Linked DNA regions of Homo sapiens: regions 1 and 3 are each reported to be linked to region 2. Evidence: microRNA targets listed by miRTarBase, many of them from high-throughput screens and not tested one by one. Region 2 holds a microRNA gene; each other region holds the end of a gene's coding sequence.

The links. The annotated mature microRNA hsa-miR-4510 reads UGAGGGAGUAGGAUGUAUGGUU and lies in region 2 at 4,580-4,601, shown strand. An mRNA with a match to its seed (bases 2 to 7 or 8) in the 3' UTR can be bound and repressed. Matches are read on the target gene's strand: a 7mer-m8 pairs with bases 2 to 8, a 7mer-A1 pairs with bases 2 to 7 and ends in A, and an 8mer does both.
Region 1: miRTarBase lists KCTD2 as a target of hsa-miR-4510. Seed matches in the 3' UTR shown: 7mer-m8 at 1,537-1,543.
Region 3: the mRNA of ZDHHC3 is a reported target of hsa-miR-4510. Seed matches in the 3' UTR shown: 7mer-m8 at 1,512-1,518, 7mer-A1 at 4,006-4,012, 7mer-A1 at 4,856-4,862 and 8mer at 5,301-5,308.

The regions. Positions count from the first base shown.
Region 1 is chr17:75,061,665-75,068,862 of GRCh38, forward strand. KCTD2 (potassium channel tetramerization domain containing 2) reads left to right here. Exons shown (of 6, transcript NM_015353.3): 5 at 456-581; 6 at 1,354-4,222. The coding sequence ends at 1,383. Among named protein-coding and RNA genes, the nearest start is that of KCTD2, 18 kb to the left of the region's middle. RefSeq lists an enhancer at 6,168-6,237.
Region 2 is chr15:35,922,284-35,929,481 of GRCh38, forward strand. It overlaps MIR4510 (microRNA 4510), which reads left to right and starts at 4,573; the gene lies at 4,573-4,640. All of the region lies in intron 1 of LOC105370766 (a long non-coding RNA gene), which reads left to right.
Region 3 is chr3:44,920,171-44,927,368 of GRCh38, reverse strand. ZDHHC3 (zDHHC palmitoyltransferase 3) reads left to right here. Exons shown (of 7, transcript NM_001135179.2): 7 at 522-7,198. The coding sequence ends at 680. Among named protein-coding and RNA genes, the nearest start is that of TGM4, 49 kb to the right of the region's middle.

The DNA.
Region 1 (7,198 bases), not on the chromosome of region 2:
AGCAGCATATGACTTCCAGTAGCTGATCAGTGATTGGCTCGGTGCTTTCCAGAGCCTCCTGTCCCCAGTCTAGGGCTTCTGCTGATAGAGGAGCCAGCTGTGTGTGTGACTGAGGCAAATGTCCATTTTGTTGGCAGATGCGTTCTGTCTTCCCTTGCTGTGCTCGACGGGGCGTGGGCATGTTAATCCTGCCGCTGACGGGGGGGGACTTCAGAGCTTGGGTGAGGGGACAGTGGAGCTCATACTCTTCCTCCTGGGGAGGCCTCACCAATGATGCCCTGATGAAGAACAGGCCCATTTCTCCCCGGGGGCTTTGGTAGTCACAGAGAACTCATATAAAGAGTTAAACCTTTGATAACTTAAAAGTTCAGTCGGAAGAGGGGTGATTTGTGTAGCACTTTCGAAAGTATGTTAAGATTGCCACATGAATGTTCACTGTATTCTTGGTTCATCAGCTCATCAGCATCGGATCTTCCTATAACTACGGCAATGAGGATCAGGCAGAATTCCTCTGTGTTGTCTCCAGAGAACTAAATAATTCTACCAATGGCATCGTCATAGAGCCGAGCGAAAAGGCGAAGGTAAGGAGCCCCTTCCCTGGGCAGTTGCCTCTGGCTTGCTTGTTCGCACCCCCTCCGTGGGCTTTTCCTGAACTCTTGCTCCTCACTTCTTCCCTGGCCTTCTAGAGCCAGCGTTGCATTTTCCCCTCGTTTTGTTATTTTTGACTGTTGTAATTTAATTGGGATTTACGGAGCACTGACAGGTGTTTTTAGTTAGAAAATATGAACCTAAAAAGGGTAGACTTTCTCCATCCTCTGCCAAATCAATGAAAAAGAAAAGCTGGTTGCCACTAATTACTACAGGGTAGGATTTCTGAACTCAGACTTGGAAGGTATTTTGATTTATTCTTTAAAACTGTGCTTTTTTCACTGCCTCAGGAGAAAAGGGTGTTTTCTTACCTTGGTGACCTTTACCTCCCTTAAGTTCCTGGAAAACTGTTTCTTTTCCCTCCACTGTGCACCCCCCTCACCCCCAACACACACACACACACACACACACACACACACACACACACACACAGCTTCTAAATCGTGGATACCAGGTAAGCTGGAACCACTTCCTTTCAGTTGGCAAAGCTTTGGTCCAACAGCATATAAGCTTTAGACCCAGCTGTGCCCAGCAAGAGAGTGTTTCGCACCAGAAGCACTGCGGGTGAGGCTGCGGCTGCACCCCTGCTTGCTTCCTGGGATGACAGGACCATCATGCCACTCATCGGGTCCAGTGGAAAGCATCCCCCGACATCTCTGTCTTTCCCTCAGCAGCCTCAGCCTCTCCCCCATCTCCAACTTTCAGATTCTTCAGGAGAGAGGATCGCGGATGTAAACTAAGACCCCGAAAACTCCAGACCTTCAGGAGAGCAGTCAGCAGAGCCCCTCTGTGAAGTGAAACCTCACTCCTGTCCAGTGACCGAGCCACTGCAAAGCACAGCTGATCCTGGCCCCCTGTGAAGAAGTGTTCTGGTCAAAACTAAAGGAACTCCCTCCCCACCTGCAGGACTCCGAAGACAGTGCGACTTCTGGCTGCAGAATACCTTTTCAGAAACCTGCTTTCATTTGCTTAGCCAGTATTAGAACAGATCTTTACAACAGCAGCTGGGCTGGGTTCCCAGTCGGAGCCTTTCGGGGATCTGGGGGATGAGGGCGGAAGGCCTAGCTCCTTGGAAATGGCCTGTACTTTAAGGACGCTGGAGCCAAGAGGATTGTTCCCGTGCCGTGCCATGGTTTCACCCTATGTGTGCCACAATGGACGTTAGCAGCTGCTTCGGAACACCGTCCCTCCTATGCACCCTCCAAGACGTGCAGCAGATGCAAAGGGTTCTAGCTGCAGTTTGTCGAATTGAGGTTTTAGGTAAAGCATAGAGTTGCCAGAGTACCCCGCATTCCCATGAATAGAGCCTCCAAGGAAAGGGAGGATGGGGTGTCCTTTGTTGTGGTTGGAGGTTGGTGATCATTGCTCTGGATTTGGGGCTCCCGGCTGCCACCACATGCAGCTTTGCCTCACCTTTCTCCAGCAGCCGGGACCCTCTGGAGAGCTTGTTTTCCCTCCAAGAAGAGGTTTGAGACAGGCGGCATCCTGCACTGAGTCAGACAAGTGGGAGCTGTAGGAACTGCACCTGCAGCCTCTTCTTACTCCCCATTGACCCTGTCTTCCTTCCCTGGCTTTTTCAACTGGACCAAAGATGAAGGCACTTATGGACCCTTTGATGGCTTGGAGTGGGGAAGGCTGTTTCTTTGAAAGTTGCCAAATGTGTTATGTTGTGTCTCAGAGAGAGTTATTTCTGTGACTCTCTTGGAAATGCCTTGACTGAATGTGCAATATTTGTGTCTCTTGGTTTCTAACCTTGGCGGACCTGCTCCCCTCTGTACTGTCCCCAGTGGTATGTATGTATGTGCTAGGCAGTCTGGGGACCCCCTGTGTCTCTGACCACCCCCCTGACCCCCGCCATTACTTTCTTTTCTGGAGTGCCATGCTGGCGAGGATCCGGATGCGGCAGCACCCTCTTTCGGGCTGCATCCACAGAGTTTGTGTCCACACTTTCTCTCCGAGCATGTGGGTCTCGCTGAGCAGTCATGGAATGCGGTAGAGCCAGGGGACCCTGTCTGCCCCGAATAACTTTCAGTAGTATGGCAGATGGCACAGAGAAAGGGAAGGGGCTCTGGGGACTTCTCCTTCTATGAAAGCCTCCTCGAGCCAGGTGCTCCTGGGCACCTTCAGAAGTGATGTCCTGTGTGCTCCACAGCTCACCTGCTTGCCAAGGTACGTCTGGGTAGTAGTTTCTGGAAATGACTGCAGACTGTGCCAAATGTCTTTTGAGCTTCTGACCTGACCATGCCCAGATGGCATAACTTTTCCCTAGGACCCTCAGTCTCCTTGTTTCTCTGTATCTGTAGCATAGCATAGAACCCGGTATACAGGGGTTTCTGCTGACACATCAACGTCTACACACCTATGCGCCACATTTTACAGCTGTAAAGTGTTAGATGAACTGCCGTCCTCAGTAAAAGCAGCCACCCCTTCAAGAGTCACAGGCATCCATCCAGTCGTATCTTTCAGAGAAAAAAAAAGTTAGATGTAGCCAAGGAAAGTAGTGATCACGGGAAGGACTGCTCTGAGCCGGGTAGGATGGAGGACTTTGGAAGAGGCGCTCCTTGGCCAGGTCCAATGAGTAACATCAGACTGACAGAGGAAAAGCAGCTTGGTTTGCGGCCTTGTGCCCAGTCTCGTTGAGGCGCTTGTCCCTGTCTGCTTTCCTGGGGCATGCCTGATCAGCGTGGGCTGGAGCTCCTAGACCAACCCCAGCTTTCTCACCAGGTTCAGCAAGGAGGCCTGGGGGTCAGACACCAATGTTGAGCACCTCCTGAGGGCGCCGTTTCCTTCATTCCTCTTAGATTCCATAGTTGCCGCCATGAAAAGACTGCTCTTGAGCCCCAAGGCACAGGCACGTGCTCTGGGAAATAGACAGGAGTGGTATTTCCGCCCTCTCGGAGGGCTGGTGTTCACCAAGTTTCCCTCCTCGCTGCAACCCAATGACACCTGTATTGTTCCAGCGCTCCAGGACTCTGGGTTCTTAAGATTTCTGGGAGCGTTGTTCACCCACCCCCTTTAGGAACCAGGCTGGTGTTCTTGCTTGAAAGCGTTGTGCCCTCTGAGTGTCTGGCTGATCACATCAGAGAGGTCTGCGTGGCAGTTTGGGGCTGTCACGTGACCAGTGACCCACACTCTCTGCTGCCCAGTACTGCCAAGTGGGGAGGGTCCTGCCTTTTTCTCTGCCCCAGGTCTGGGACGCAGGTGATGCCAGCCAGGCCCAGGAGTGCCCAGCATCCCCCAACTGATGACACAGTAGCACTGATTCTGTCTTTTCCTCAGAATCTGGCCTTTTTCCATGGCAATGAGGTGGGGCCCAGCCTCCTCTAAAGTGACTTTGTTTCTGCACAGTTGTAACTGCTCTTGGGGATGTCAGTGAGGCTGGGAGCAGGGAGCCACGGGATGCTGAGAGAGGAGGCCCGAGAGGACACCCCACCCTCCAGCGTGGCCTTTGATCCAGACTTAGGGACGAGGCTGTCACTGGTGGGCACCCTCTGTTCCTGTTTGTGTGTTTGAATAGTCTGAAATGCTGTGACTTTTTTTGTGTGAATAAAGATATGAAACTTCTGAATCTCAAGAACTGTGGTGTGTTTTCCATTACTGCAGTCTCCTGGTTCCCACTGTCACTTCCTGTCGATGGTTCTCACATGGGTTTCAGGAGATGACTTAACTACCTTTCCTACCAGGACAGCTGACTAAGTCCTTTTCTCCTGCTACTGAAACCACCAAAGGGGGTGTTGGGCCTTCTCCCTCCTCCCTTTCATTTTACTGAATCTGAAAAGACCCAGAGAATGCAGAGAAACAGAAGGTGGGACGGATGGGCTGCCCACCAGAGAGCTGGAAAGAGACAAGGGGAGGAGTGTGAGATTTTTTTTTTTTTTTTTTTTCCCCGAGATGGAGTCTCGCTCTGTCACCCAGGCTAGAGTGTAGTGGTGCAATCTCGGCTCACTGCAACCTCTGCCTCCCATGTTCAAGCAATTCTCCCTCGGCTTCCTGAGTAGCTGGGATTACAGGCGCCTGCCTGCGCGCCTGGCTAATTTTTGTATTTTTAGTAGAGACAGTATTTTGCTGTGTTGGCCAGGCTGGTCTCGAACTCCGACCTCAGGTGATCCTCCCGCCTCAGCCCCCCAAAGTGCTGGGGTTACAGGCATGAGCCACCATCCCCGGCCGTGAGATGGTTTTTAAGGGACAAGTCTTTCTGGAAGAGAGTGAGTGACTAGGTACAAGGAAGAGGATGAGTGAGGAACGTTTGGTGACAACCAACAAACAAGTATTGATCACTTCAGCATCAGGCGGGGCATGGGAAACTCAGAAGGTGTTAGTCCCTTCCAGACAGCACTTTCAGGTAGGGAGACAAAATGGACTCATACAGCTTAGTGAACAGGATGCGTGGGTGCATCCGTCAGGGTCCAATTGAGACCACAGCAGTTGTTAACTGGTAGTGGAGAAAGGAAAGGGCAGGAGTGGACACTGAGGCATCACAATGTAGGGATTGCAGGGTGCAGTCCTCACTCCTGGGACCTGAGAACAGTGGGAAGACATTGGGATTATTAAAGTGGAGATTTGGCCGGGCGCGGTGGCTCACACCTGTAATCTCAGCTCTTTGGGAGGCCAAGGCAGGCGGATCACCTGAGGTCAGGAGTTCGAAACCAGCCTGACTAACGTGGAGAAACCCCATCTCTACTAAAAAATACAAAATTAGCCGGACCAGCTACTCGGGAGGCTGAGGCAGGAGAATCACTTGAACCTGAGAGGTGGAGGTTGTGGTGAGCCGAGAGCACGCCATTGCACTCCAGCCTGGGCAACAAGAGCAAAACTCCGCCTCAAAAAAATAAAAGGGCTGGGCGCAGTGGCTCACGCCTGTAATCCCAGCACTTTGGGACGCCGAGGCGAGCGGATCACGAGGTCAGGAGATCTAGACTATCCTGGCCAACATGGTGAAACCCCGTCTCTACTAAAAATATAAAAATTAGCTGGGCATGGTGGCAGGTGCCTGTAATCCCAGCTACTCTACTCGGGAGGCTGAGGCAGGAGAATGGCTTGAACCCGGGAGGCAGAGGTTGCAATGAGCAGAGATCACGCCACTGCACTCCAACCTGGTGACAGAGCGAGACTCAGTCTCAAAAAAAAAAAAAAAAAAAAAAGATTCACCTGCACTTTGGGAGGCCCAAGCTGGGAGGATTGCTTGAGCCCAGGAGTGTGAGATCAGCCTGGGCATCGTGGTGAGACTCTGTCTCTATGTAAAATTAAATCTAAAAATAAAATAAGGCCAAGTGTGGTGGCTCACACCTGTAATCCCAGCACTTTGGGAGGCCGAGGCAGGCAGATCACTTGAAGTCAGATGTTTGAGACCAGCCTGGCCAACATGGTGAAACCCTGTTTCTACTAAAAATACAAAAATTAGCCGGGCATGGTGGCACATGCTTGTAATCCCAGCTACTTGGGTGGCTGAGGCACGAGAATTGCTTGAACCCGGGAGGTGGAGGTTGCAGTGGGCTGAGATCACACCACTGCACTCCAACCTGGGTGACAGAGATTGTGTCTCAAAATAAAATGGAGATTCAAGAGGAGGGGACCAATGGAGAAGGACGTGCTGGCCAGTGGCAGCTGCTGCCTCTCAGAGGGTAGAGAAACCACCAAGAAACCAGCACCACTCCTGGAATCAGCTATGCCAGCACACAGCAGTGTTCTGTGGTTTGGCTCACAACAGGAAATACATCGTCCCTCCTTTTTTTCTCTCGTCTTGCAGTCTCCCTCAGCCTGTCCTACCAGGTTGAGCTAGGAGGGGGAAAATGTGGCTCGGAGCAGAGTTCAGAGGGTGGGTTTGGGGCTGAGAGACAACAATGTGGTGACTGGCTCAGTCCACCTGTTTGGTTCCCCTCACATGTACATGCTTCTGCACATACTTGAACTTGCATAGGATGGTGAAAAATGCTGGGTGTGGTGGCTCATGCCTATAATCCCAGCACTTTGGGAGGCCAAGGCAGGTGGATCACTTGAGGTCAGGAGTTTGAGACCAGCCTGGCCAACATGATGAAACCCCGTCTCTACTAAAAATACAAAGAATTAGGCTGGGCGCGGTGGCTCACGCCTGTAATCCCAGCACTTTGGGAGGCCAAGGCGGGTGGATCACGAGGTCAGGAGATGGAGACCATCCTGGCTAACACGGTGAAACCCTGTCTCTACTAAAAATACAAAAAATTAGCTGGGCGTAGTGGTGGGCACCTGTAGTCCCAGCTACTCGGGAGGCTGAGGCAGGGGAATGGCGTGAACTCGGGAGGTGGAGCTTGCAGTGAGCCAAGATCGCGCCACTGCACTCCAGCCTGGGCGACAGAGCGAGACTCCGTCTCAAAAAAAAAAAAAAAAAAAAATTAGCTATGCGTGGTGGCGGGTGCCTGTAATCCCAGGTACTCTGGAGGCTGAGGCAGGAAAATCGCTTGAACTCAGGAGACAGAGGTTGCAGTAAGCCGAGATCATGCCATTGCGCTCCATCCTGGGCAACAAGAGCGAAACTCCGACTCGGAAAAAAAGAAAAAAAAACGTGGTGAAAAAA
Region 2 (7,198 bases):
TAGCTCAGGAGAGAGATGGAACTTCTGCAAGATGGTATTTATAGATGAGAAGGCCAGGATATTTGTATTAGTAAGCTCAGAAAAGTATAGAAATATTCTAGAAGTCCCCTCTCTTCATCTGTCTGCTCATTACTTATTTTAGAAATAACAAATATCTATGATTTTGGCTGTGTAAATAAATGAGTAAGGGTTTGAAATCTTGTGATTCCAATATTTTTCACAATCCATTTGCACTATTTCAGGTAATTCCTTTCTTTATGTACAAGCAACCTCCACCACAGTGCCCTAAGGCACAATACGGTATAGCCATTCACACATGCACGGTCAACCTGGTTTCAGCCTATCAGAGCAAGATCAGGAAGGATTAGACAAATTTAGTTGTATACACTTACACAGGTTCAAAGCCAGTCTTATGCAGAGCTGGATAGGCAATTACCTATATGATGACATTTTATGTTACTACAGGACATAATGTCCAGGAAACAAAGGAATAGGAATTCTGTTTTTTGGTTACTGCCTTGGTTGAACATTAAAATTAGCATTGTTCTGTGCACTACCTTTGTTAATAAAAGTCCTAAGGAAGTTGTAATCATGGACATGTAGGACATTTGGGAAGTTTTGTGTAATGCAATAACTGAATGATTAGGGCAGGAGAAGGAATAATTACCAAATCCTTAATTTCTAGGCTGGTGGTACCCTTGATTTTACTTTTTGCAATTATATGTTTCAGAGAACATTGTTTAAACCATAGTGTTCAGATTTCTGTATTAAGATAAAAAAAGGGAAATTACATCTAGATGAGAATTGTAAGTAAGCATTAACTGTGAGTTATCATTTTCCTTACATTATCTCATTTGACTACTCAAACAATCTTACGAGATAGGTATTATCTCCATTGTTCAGATGAAAAGGTAGTCATAGAGATTAAATATTTATTAGAAGTCACACAACTAGTAAGCAGAAGTTGTGTGAACCTAGCTCTGTGGATGCAAAATAATGTACTGCTTTGCAAGACCTGTAGCATAATTTACTTATGTTCTATATGTGGGTAAAATTGTTACATTATCACTGGTAAAATACAAAACCAAATATAAAGAATAATTGCATTTTGATTTTTGGACCTGCCAAGACATACATCCTCAAACTCTTTTGCATCAGAAATGCCTGGGAGAATTGTTTTGTTTGTTTTGTAATTAAAATGCACCCTATTGTCTCTTCTTCCTTGATGATTGCCAAAAATTATAGTTTAAAAATACAACGAGGTGATATGAACATGTTTGAATGTTACCATTATATTTTTATTACACGTAAACAATACATTGTGTTTCCAAAATAATATACTCTAGAAAGTAAACTTTTCTTTCTTCTTTCCCATAAGTGACATCCTTCTGATATGCAGAGACTTTTAACTTGGGTACCAAACCATAATGGTACAAATAGAGGTATTTCAAGAAGTTGCTAAAATTGTTACATTGTAGAGCAGAATCTGATTTTGTGTACATGTTCCTACAGAAAATTCAGAACACATCTTAACCCCGTTATTCTTATTGTGTCACTTTAAAAGTTAGAGAATTGGTTTAGTAACAAACCTAGAAGTTTCCATCATATCCTCTTAAGCATCTGTGGTTCTTGCACTCAGCCATCTCAGCATGCTCATGCCAAAGCTCAAGACACGAGATCCTTCCAAATATGAAGAGTAAAATGAGGCTTATCACCTTCGTAAAGATTAATTATTTTTCAACCAATAAAACAGACTTTTTCTTTATCTAATGGGCTTCATCCATCATAGTACATGATAGATAGTTAATACTTTACTTTCAGGGAAACTGCAGCTTAGAGCAGTTTTACTAGTTCAGTTCAGACAGTGGTTTACCTCTAAACTTCTATAGCTAGGGCTAATAGTGTCTGATGAGCTCATCTGCCTGGAGAAAGAAAGAACAGACATAAGAAAGTGCTACCCCAAATACTTAAAATTGCCTTGCTGTGGATTTGAAACAACACAGGTTGTAAAAGCACAAAGTGCCAGACAGCTTACATACATCTTTTAGCACATTTCAAAGACAAAACAACATGTGCGGAATCAAAGGCAGGAAAATCATTATGTAAAATATCACCTTTCCCCAGTAAATGTTTTCTATTGAACTGCTGAAAATTCTTCTCAGTAAGGAAGATAGAAAGCCAGGGCAACCCCTCTGCAGGCACAGCAGAGTGAGGTCCACCCAAAAATTCTCCACTGCCATGGGCTGCAACCTTAAGACCCTGCATGACTTGTTAGAGATTTAGATTTATCTGGCTCTCTAGTGTCTTATTGCATAATTTCCATTACTTTATTACCCACCATTCGCCCTTCAATAGTTCTTTTCATGTGTTTTTTGTTGTGGCTTTGCTTATGTGGGACAGTCCATGTTACAAGTTTTCTCTATTATTTATATATGAAAGTCTCCTCATGAAAACACCATCATATATAGCAAAGCAAACTATATTAGAATTCCATAATAACATGGCTTTGTATAAATTCTGATACCCTCTTGGTCATAGTTATTCATAGGTCAAATGAAACAATGAACTAATTACACATTGATATACTAGACTGAGGCTGTGTTTCAACCAGGTTGACCTTGTCTGGGGAATACATGCAATCAGGGGCATGTAAGTCCCCTCTGAAATACAACTGAAGATGGTATGATCACCAATGATTGGAAAGGTAGGATCACTGGGAGAAGTCAAGGTTGAGTCTTGGATGTTACAACTAATGTCTATGATTTCCATAGTTCAGAATAAAACCAAGGATAGCGTATCAATCAGGACAACAATAGTCACTCCAGATAGGAGGAATTTTAATAGAGGGAGGTGCTGAGAAGCCAAACAAATGATAATAAGGCAACCCAGACATTACAGTAGCAAAAAGCCACTATCATCCCTATGTTTGAGAGTTAAAGGGAAAAGACTGTTATTGGATTGCCTGGCTCTGGGGCCACAGACAGAAGCCAAAACCATTTCAGGTCTGCCTGTCAGTAGCTTGAACCAGTAAGCAAAGGACACCTATCCAGATTTGCAGCCATAGAAGAGGTTGAAACCTGAGACTATCTGGTTTAAATTAACCTTTCTTGTTACTGGCAGCTACTAATAGATTGCACTTAATCAACTATCGCATCTCTCATAGAGAAGGAGTCATGACCATGTTTTCCTTATTTATTATGCCATCGTGCAGCGGAGAGTGACCCAGAGGTTTATTCTTCTTATGTGACAAGACTGATGAAATCAATCTCACACCATTTTACACTTGTATCTATTGTAATTTTTATACATATTAAAATAAATACCACACACCTGAATTAGGGTAAATGGCTTGCTTATTCGTCCTCTGAGGTGGGCTTTTGTTTTTCCTTACTAGAAAGTCTGAGCGTGTTTCGTTTCTCATATTTGTTTAAATAAAAAAGAAATTTTAATGATACCATGAATCCTCATGATCAGGGAAGAACGATGTGTCAGTTCACCTGATGACCTCACCAGCAAGTAACAGAAAACAAGCAAAATGACTCATACAATGAGGGCTTTGTTATCTTTATTGTCTGACAAGTCCTGTTGTATGTTCCAAGATCACTGACTTCAAGGGCTCAATGAATGGCTCAGGGATCCATTTCATTTCCACATTTTGTTCTGCCATCTTTGGAATGTTCGTGTTTGTCCTTACGTGGCCCCTCACATCCCCAAGTTACTCCAACCTTATATCCTCAACAATAACTTCCAGAGGTGAGAAGATAGACCATCTCTTCCTTATGTTCTTTCATAAAAGTCAGAAAAACTGTACTAGAAATCCACCCCAGACTTCCCCTCACATTTTACTGGACAGAATGACATTACATCATGGACAAGAGAATGGAATTTACATGAGTCATTTCAACCAGAGTTGATATGCACCTTCAGCTGAGAAGGGACTTAGTCTCCTTTGAAGGATATGGCCTACCAAGACTTGAACAAAATCAACTCTTACACAGCACTTACAACAAGGGAGGCACTATTCTAAGAGTTATTAAACATACATAAAGAGATATAGAAATGTGTATTAAATCATTTAATACAAAAATTATATGAGGTGGTTATTATCTATAACTTATCAAGATATTAAGTAACTTAAGGGCCAGGCACAGCGGCTCATGCCTATAATCCCAGTACTTTGGGAGGCAGTGGTGGGAAGATGGGTTGAGGCCAGGAGTTTGAGTCCATCCTGGGCAACATAGTGAAACCCCATATCTACAAAAAAAATTAAAAATTAACCAGGTGTGATTGTGTGGACCTGTAGTTCTAGCTACTCAAGAGGCTGAACCTGGAGGATCCTTCGAACCCAAGAGTTTGAGGGTGCAGTGAGCTATGGACATGCCAAAGCACTTCACCCTTGGTGAGACAGCAAGATAACCTTGTATTAAATAAATAAATTAATTAATTAATTAATTAATTAATTAATTAAGGTCACACTGTTATTCAGTAGTGACAGCAGGGTTGTAACTCAGGTGATCTGGCCCCAGAGTTGTTGCCTTTAAGATGAATACCAGGTTGCCTCTGTGGAATAGTGTGTATGTGAGGGAGTAGGATGTATGGTTGTTAGATAGACAACTACAATCTTTTCTCACAACAGACAGAGCCTGTCATTAAGTAGGCACTCAGAAATGTTCATGGAATAAGCAAAAAAAAAAAAAAAGAAGAAGAATGAATGAATGAATATACCCTTTGATAGCCTCCAATACAGTGTCTTGTATGTAATAGTCATTCAGTGGTTGCTTAGTTGATGGTGTCTCATTGTGTGTCTATTGCAGCACAATTTAAGTAGAGAATTTAGGATATGCTACAAACTGGTCTATCATTTTCCTTAAGATAAATGAGGGGTAATGCTCAGAGAGAGGGCAGTTACCCATGACTGAAGTGGGAGAGACTGACATTCAGGAGTTTGATTTGGGAAACCCTAGAATTCTAGGAAGTGATTGCTGTTTATAAAAATGCAAATTGGTCCTGTTTAAACTTGTCATTATAGAAAAACCTAGCAAGGCTCATATCCTATGCTAAACTCCGCTACAATCTCTATCCAGAAGATGTCTGACCATTTTATATTGTTTTCCAACCCTTTCTTGGTTTGTTCGCTGGAGAGAATCCATCTCATTTACCACAACTCCAAAATCCCCCTGTGTGGAACACAAGACACATCTATGTCCTGCTCACATTGTTTTCTTGAGAGCAGAGAGATGTCAATTGGCTTGGTCCTCTTTTATATGCAATTAGATACAGCTATCATATATTACCTTGTGACAGATATGCATTGTCTCATTCAATATTAAGTAGGGATCCACATGTAGCCATCCACAGTCGTAGACCTGGATATATCTTGTTTCTACTTGGAGAAATTCAATGAATGGCAACATGGATTTACAAATCAATATTAAGAGGTAATTATTCTGCTTACAAATAAATTTGTCAGCTTCCACATCTGTTAGCAGGTCAGAGATTATTTGAGTTCACATTAGAGTGAAATACATAGAAAAGAAACTTAAAGTTTGTATATTATAGAAGATCATTAGGAAATGCCTTCCTTTGACTCTAGAGCCAAAGGACTAATCTAACAATCAATGTCATCAATAACTTTCTCTACAGTATTTAATGTCAATTATTGATTCCCAGAAAAGCAAACCCTGTTCAAAATGTGTTATTTTGATTTATAAGCAATTCATTCACCATATTATTCTCCCTGACCCGCAGTAAGCAAATAGGCATCAAGCCCATGGTTTCCTAGTTATTAAGAATGATAATGTCTCTTACAGATTATCCAATCCAGACCTCTTGTTATATAGACACAGTTAGAAGGCCCAGTTACTATCCCAAGGCTACATAGCTAATAAAATATACAGCCAGAAGGAGAATTTTGGTCTAGAGCTCTTTCCTGTCCTCACAATTAAATAATCAATTTCTTTACATGTCAAAGTCACTACATCTTACAGTTCAGTGCTTACATAACTTTATACCATGCCTTAAATAATATTCCCAAAATACTTATTTGTATTCTTTATATCTGCTTTGATTCCAGAGTACAGAGAGCTCTTGGAGGATGTGATAGATCATATTTTCCAAAGATGGTCACAATATAATTTGCTACTTTACACACTCTTCTTCATTGTGATTTTGTCCTTACACCATTAGAAGTTTATTTTTCCAACCACTTTGAATCTGAGTAGGCCATGTGATTGCTCTATTCAATAATATACAACTGAGGTTCTGCATATGGCCCTTAAGTAGCCCAGCAACTCCTGATCCCTACATTTTGGAATATTTGCTCATAGGACATTTCTTCCAAGAACCCAGTCTCTGCAGTGAGAAGCAGGAACCATACAACAAAGCCGTGATTAGCTGCTCCAGCCTAGCTAAGCTTTCAAAAACTGACAGCTAGTATCAACTACCAGACATGTAAGCGTACCATATTGAACTTCTAGCCCAGCTGAGCTTTTGGGTGACTGCAGGCCTAGATGACAGCTGCCTGTAAGTGCTTGAGAGACCTCAGGTGAAAACCAACCAGTTGGGCACAATCAACCCCCTGGCCTTAAGAAATATTAAATAAGTTTTGTCTTAATTGCCTGAAGTTTTAAGGTGGTTTGTTAGACAGCAGTAGACAACTGGAACACAGCACTAGACAGGAGTTAGCAGTTGTGACTGCCCACAGATTCATGACATCGAGCCTCAGATGCACTCTCACCTCTGCCAAGCAAGCCTCTACTTCAAGCCTCACTGACTCTCATACGTACTGCTTACCTTGACAGATCCAGCTCTCCCACTCTTCCTATTAGCAAAACCTGTCAGGTTTGAAACTGATGTCTGGGTATGTGGAATTTTCAACAGAAATTCTAGGAAACTTCAACACTTCTTAACATAGAAAAAGAATGCTGTGTTTTTCCATATGGGTATCTCCCTTAGGTAACAAGGCTCAACAGAGGTCATAAAGCCCAAGAGCAAGTTAGATATAATGTTGACCTTTCCAGAAAGCACAGAGCTAAATTTAATACTCAACCTGGTAACTATTTCAGCCTGGAGGGACATTATATTTGCTTCCTCTTCTGCAGGGTTCTGATATTTATACATTTTTTACTTTAACAGCCTTATTGTATACATGTGATAATTTCTAAATCTTCTTGGAAGCAGGCAGGGTCTAAACTACAAA
Region 3 (7,198 bases), not on the chromosome of region 2:
TGATTTGTTACTTTTTTTTTGTCTGCAAGGTGGTCATGGTAGCTTCAAACTTCCTAGGAACCTATCCCAAATTAATGGCCATCATTGGTTATGATGATTGCGAGCTCCCCAACAGCTCTGAGGCCTCTCACGCCAAAGCCTTCATAGTACTCCATCCACAGCCCAGCACAGAGTTTCTGAAGAGTGCCTCTGCAGAGCTCAACAAGGGGCCAGGGCTGGAGAGACGCGCTCCTTATCTTAGCGACACACCCCGGCCTGGCATACTTACAAGCAGCAGTTTCTGCGCTGCTGATAGTGCTTCTTTTTCCCTCCCTTCTTGGAGGGACTTGTGAATGAGTGCCCACCAAAAAAAGGAGAAATTTTTTTAGTAACACTTTTTATGAGAAAGATATATTAGGTAGATAGCTTTGTTGCTTTAAAAAGGAAACATTTACTCCATTCACCTGTCGCTGCGGACATCCCTCCCCAGAAACCACAGCAATGCAGTGCTTGACTGAAAGTATGATTGTTCTTGTTTTCAGGGAATAGAACAATTGAAAAAGGAAGAGAGAAGATGGGCTAAAAAAACAAAATGGATGAACATGAAAGCCGTTTTTGGCCACCCCTTCTCTCTAGGCTGGGCCAGCCCCTTTGCCACGCCAGACCAAGGGAAGGCAGACCCGTACCAGTATGTGGTCTGAAGGACCCCGACCGGCATGGCCACTCAGACACAAGTCCACACCACAGCACTACCGTCCCATCCGTTCTCATGAATGTTTAAATCGAAAAAGCAAAACAACTACTCTTAAAACTTTTTTTATGTCTCAAGTAAAATGGCTGAGCATTGCAGAGAAAAAAAAAAGTCCCCACATTTTATTTTTTAAAAACCATCCTTTCGATTTCTTTTGGTGACCGAAGCTGCTCTCTTTTCCTTTTAAAATCACTTCTCTGGCCTCTGGTTTCTCTCTGCTGTCTGTCTGGCATGACTAATGTAGAGGGCGCTGTCTCGCGCTGTGCCCATTCTACTAACTGAGTGAGACATGACGCTGTGCGTGGATGGAATAGTCTGGACACCTGGTGGGGGATGCATGGGAAAGCCAGGAGGGCCCTGACCTCCCACTGCCCAGGAGGCAGTGGCGGGCTCCCCGATGGGACATAAAACCTCACCGAAGATGGATGCTTACCCCTTGAGGCCTGAGAAGGGCAGGATCAGAAGGGACCTTGGCACAGCGACCTCATCCCCCAAGTGGACACGGTTTGCCTGCTAACTCGCAAAGCAATTGCCTGCCTTGTACTTTATGGGCTTGGGGTGTGTAGAATGATTTTGCGGGGGAGTGGGGAGAAAGATGAAAGAGGTCTTATTTGTATTCTGAATCAGCAATTATATTCCCTGTGATTATTTGGAAGAGTGTGTAGGAAAGACGTTTTTCCAGTTCAAAATGCCTTATACAATCAAGAGGAAAAAAAATTACACAATTTCAGGCAAGCTACGTTTTCCTTTGTTTCATCTGCTTCCTCTCTCACCACCCCATCTCCCTCTCTTCCCCAGCAAGATGTCAATTAAGCAGTGTGAATTCTGACTGCAATAGGCACCAGTGCCCAACACATACAGCCCCACCATCATCCCCTTCTCATTTTATAAACCTCAAAGTGGATTCACTTTCTGATAGTTAACCCCCATAAATGTGCACGTACCTGTGTCTTATCTATATTTTAACCTGGGAGACTGTTGTCCTGGCATGGAGATGACCATGATGCTGGGGTTACCTCACAGTCCCCACCCTTTCAAAGTTGACATATGGCCATCCCATTGGCCAGAATCCACAGACACACCTAAGCCTGTGGCACTGGGACAGAATAGATTTTCCATTTGAGAGGCACTTCCTGTGTCAGTCTTGTTTGAAGGAGGTGGTGATGGTGGATAGAGGTGAAGGAGGTAGGGAGTGCCCTCCAAGTGCAAAAATAACAAATATGATTATTGACCATCGGGGAATTCTCACACATTGATTTGTTTTTTAAGCAATTGCCAGAAACCCCCTTTTTTAGCTTTTGCTTGGGGTGGGGGTAGGAGTTAAGGTTTATTCAATCCTGTCCTGGGTAGGGCGAAAGTTAATCTAGCCATGTGATTTTTCAGAAAAGTAAGTGGAACATGCTGCCACTTTTCAATTCTGTCAGTGCTTCCACATGGAAACAAAATGCAATAAAATTTTTCCAAAACCTGTTCTGATTTAGCTCTCTCTTGAGGTGTTACCCTTAGTGGGAGGCCGACTATCCACAATCTACTTGAGTTTTCTCTGGTTGGGTGTTTGTTTCATTGCTCTGTCTCTTGAATGAGGATACTTTATTTTTTTTGTTTTAAAATGCATTTATGGTCCCTCTCTTGAACCAGCTTGCCCCACCAGGCCTCTTTCCTTTGCTTTCTGCAGCCTGAATCAATTCCTTTGTGCTGATGGGCTCTCCTAAGAGCTTTCCTGAGTCAGTTAACTTTACCTCGTGTCTACGGTGCTATTCATGCGATACGGGCGAGGCTGAGATGCTAAGATTAAAAAGAAAAGAATGCTGTTTTAGATCAAGTTGATAGCATTTGTTTTCCATATGCTTTTTTAAAATTTTTTCATAACATACAGCTCAGTTAGGTGTATGAAAGAAGTGTTATTGTATTAAATAACTAGAGCAGGGCTACAGCTCTGGCCCTCCCCTAGGGGGAAGAGATTGGTAATACTCCATCTTCCAGGGCATTTTTTAAAGTGAGCCAGGTTAGCTCTTTTCCCCTGGCATTTCTCAGGAATGCAGTAGATAGTGCTGAAGATGCACTGACTTTTTTTTAGTCCTAAAAATAGAAACTCCTCCTTTAAAGCTGTGCATACTATGCTTATCTTTCCAATAGAGTGGGGTTCCTTCAGATATCCTATAGGATTCTGCCTCTGGTTTTGTATAGGCCTTGGCTAGAAAGAGTCAATGTTTCTGAGCTCTCAAACCAGTTGCTCTCAGAAGATAGGAATACCCCAAGGTTCCTGGCATTTTTCCTATTTCATTTTTGTTCAGACTGATATTTTGCCAAGAGCACAATGACTGAGGAATGTAGCCATCATTTGCAGGGTAGTGATTGGTTCCCAGCCTGGCTTCCACACAGGACAGGAAGGGAAAGCATCCCTGAGCTCTCCTCAGTATTTCCGGATGTAATGAAAGAGGACATCTTTCTACACAAAGTCAGCCCCAACTTTTGGCTTGGTCACAGGAGTTCTGATAGTACTGTTTGGTGCACTCATGGGAAATTGAACCAGTCGTAGCCACAGTCTTTCAGAGCCTGGGCTCTGGGGAGTGGAAGTGAAAAATAAAGATGTGGCTTGTTGGATTGTGATCCCCAGCTTGCTTTCCTTCTGTCAACTCTGTCAGGTTTGTGTTCATAGCAACTAGACTGAATATGCAAAAGGCTTAGATCCAAGCAAATCTATAATCTATGCATATTTGCATGGGCTTGGTAATATCATGTACACAAAACACATTTGGGTAGAAGTGCATGTGCTAAATCTCCTTTTAGTCCCACCATTTTGTCTTCTTCATACTGTACTTCCTCTTTTTTGTTTGAGACAAGGTCTTGCTCTGTCACCCAGGCTGGAATGCAGTGGCACAATTAGAGCTCACTGCAGCCTTGAACTCCTGGGCTCAAGTGATTCTTGTGCCTTGGCCTCCTGAATATCCAGGGCTACAGGCACGTACTACCATGCCTGGCTAATTTTTTTGTTTTTTAATAGAGTCAGGGTCTCACTGTGTTGCCCTAGCTAGTCTCAAATGCCCGGCCTCCAGCAATTTTCCTGCCTTAGCCTCCCAAAGTCCTGGGATTACAGGCGTGAGCCACTGGGCCCAGCCCTGTACTTCTTGAAAAAGCCCCAAGTATTAGCTTTTGCTCATCTGGCTAGGCCACTTAAATAGTTAGAATCCACCGTCCCCTAATGCAGAAACCGTTTAGGTGAGGTAAATTAACAAACATTTTAAGCCGGGCGCGGACACTTCTCACTGTGGACATCCCTCACGCCTGTAATCCCAGCACTTTGGGAGGCCGAGGCGGGCAGATCACGAGGTCAAGAGATCGAGATCATCCTGGCTAACACGGTGAAACCCTGTCTCTACTAAAAATATAAAAAAATTAGCTGGGCGTGGTGGCAGGCGTCTGTAGTCCCAGCTACTTGGGAGGCTGAGGCAGGAGAATGGCGTGAACCCGGGAAGTGGAGCTTGCAGTGAGCCAAGATCGCACCACTGCACTCCAGCCTGGGCGACAGAGTGAGACTCCGTCTCAAAAAAAAAAAACAAACATTTTAAACATGTATGTGAGGTTGGCATTACACAGAAACTCCTCTCCGGGTGGGCTGGGATGGGCTTTCTCAGCCAGGCTAATGGGTTTTAAATTTCTCTCTTTTCAAGACTTGCAGTGCATCAGCTTAAAGGGTGAGCCAGCCAGTAGAGGGGAAGGCGCCCCACCTAGAAGGTGCCCTTAGATATCAAAGAAATGTGAAAAGAGAAAGATTTTGCTAGAATCCTCCTCAAAGGTGTTCTTGAGGTTGCCAGACCAGCAACGTCAACATCAGCATCACCTGAGAACTTGTTAGAAATGCACATTCTCGGTCCCCACCCCAGGCTACCGAACCAGAAACCGAGCGGGGCCCAGCAGCCCGTGTCTTAACAGCCCTCCAGGTGATTCTGACTATCAAGTTTGAGAATCCAGTTGGGGCTAGCAGGAGTCCCCCCTCAGGTGGTCCCTGATGCCTGCTGGTGATATGGGTCTTGTGTGCTGCTGGGCTCAGCATAGTGCAGTTGGGGTGTGCTGATTGTGAGACAGGCACGTGTTCCCTCCGCGGAGAAGCCACTGAGACTGCCTTCCCTCATAAGCTGCGGCCTCCCCAACAAACAACTGCCAAGACATCAAAGAAAGTCTGTATGAAGCAGATCCAAATTATTAGCCTGCCCACCACTCCTTGTGCATCTCATCAGTGGAACCCATCTCTAGACCAAGGGCCCTTTGGGTGAAGAAGCAGCCCGGAAGGGAAAGAGAAAAGAGTAGAACCAAGGGACCTCCAGATGGGAGCGGCGGCCGGTGAGTAGTCTAGAGCCAGGGGCATTGTAGCAGCCTGGATACATGACCTGAACACGTCTTGACCTTTGCTTTCTACGTGTGGGTTTCAACACCCATGTGGCTTTTTCTTGTATTCTTTAAATATGTATCTGGCTTAGGATCACCTCATAGAAGAGAAAGAATTCACAGTGAAGCAGAAACAAGCCACTGACCAGCGTACTCCCAACCTGAACCTTCTTTTTCTCACCCTCTCCCTCAAGTAAACATCTTGCTGACTTGAGCAGTGTGATTGCCGTAGCAAAGCAGAGTGGCCCCCAGGGATCCCGCTCTGTTGGGCCCACAGGAGGAGCCGATGAAGCTGATCCAAGGAGTGAGGACAAGCGCTGCAGAGGGACGTTCGCTAAAAGCCTTCTAGGGGCCGCACATGCTCTAACACGGACATAAGGATGCCCTGAATTTCTGCAGCTGAGGCCATATAGTCTGGTGACCAAGTATTTGGGTCCTGGCTTCAGTCTTTGGTTGAAATGTCTGCTTGGCTACTTATTACCGCACCTACTACCAAAATATGACCTTGAGCAGTAACTTCTTTAAGCCTCAGTTTTTTCATCTGAAAACGGGAATGATAATCTAAATCACAAAGTTAATGGAAGGATTAAATGAGGGTGATGAATAGGAATGTATAGCGTCTGGCCCTGGTATGGCTTTATAAATGTTAGCTGTGTTGGAGCTGTGCTTTTCAAACCATTGGTCACAGCCATTCATGGTTTGCAACCAGCATGTTTTTCAAGAAAAATGTTTAATGCATTACATATTGCAGGATAAGTATTGTTTTATGAAGCTTAGGGAGTTGTGTGTATATGTGTTCTGGAATGCAACAGAAAAATGTTTCCTCTTGTGGGTTACAATATAGAGGTATGAAATCTCTGATGAGGAGAGACAGTGTTATCTGGCCCGCTATGAAGAGACACATTTGCATAGGCTGCTCCCTGAGGCTCTGGCTTTCTACATCTGATGATACAGGGAGCAGGGAACAGCCTGTTCTCGTTCTGTGGGGCTCAGCTGAGTCTGTTCTGCACAGACTCTTCCTTCCTCGGGAGCCTTAGTCCTAATACATTCATTTTGGAGTGTTGGTGAGTTTGTTCACAGATCACAGCTCATGTGTCACCCAGACTGACCTGGGCCAAAAGGCCCATCACACACCCTGCAAGAGCTTCTGGTGTCGACTATGACCCCCTTACCAGGCATCAACCATTTTTGTTCGTTCTCTTGAGCCTGAAGCTACTATTACTGCTCCTCTGCAAACCTCAAGCTTAAGAACTTTGCCTGCAGGATCCCTTTAAATCCACACAAAACTCAAAATTGAGTCCTACCAGGAAAAAGCAGCCCTCAGCCCATTTTTATACATCGGATTTGTTTGCAATATTTTCTTTCTAGACTCAAAAGTCAACACTCCCTGAAAGTTTGTCGACTTTACTGCTGAAGACCTCTGGTAGACAGGCCAGGCTCTGTCTGGAATACTTTATGAGGTTGGTGAGGAGGTTGAGTATAATCCAAGAGTGCCTATCTGGGAGCATGCCACATGAATGGCAAATAATCATCCTGTGGGCTCTTGGCTTCATTCCCCTTCTCTCTGACTGAGCTCAGCCTGGGCACAGTGGTGATTTGCAGTAGAACTGGAAACCTGTTGGGCAGAAAAAAAGACACTAGTTCTGGTTCCAGTTCTGATACATAACAAGCTAGATGAGCCTTGGCCACCGTCATGGCCTCTTGGAACTTCTGTTTCTTCCCCATCTGCCAATCATCAATACTCATACCCACCTCCTCACAAGGAGGCCATAAAAACCTATGGTCATGGCTTTGAGTCCAAGTCAGTGTGGATGCAGCCAGTCTGTCATTTTTGGGTGTTTCCTCTGTAGCCGGGTCTGCCATATGGTGATGTCCCAGCTCTCGTGCTATGAAGTTAAAGCCTCTTTCTCAACAGGCTGCAGATGATCACCCAGGAAGAGAATGCAGAATGCCCAAAGCAAACCATCTCAGCTGGTCACTGCTTCTGTGCCAAGAAGGGAGGCCTGGCGAGGGGCCAGTCAGGAAGCAGCATGGCATCACATGCTCATGACCCACATGAAGGTCCCTTTAGACTTGTGTCAA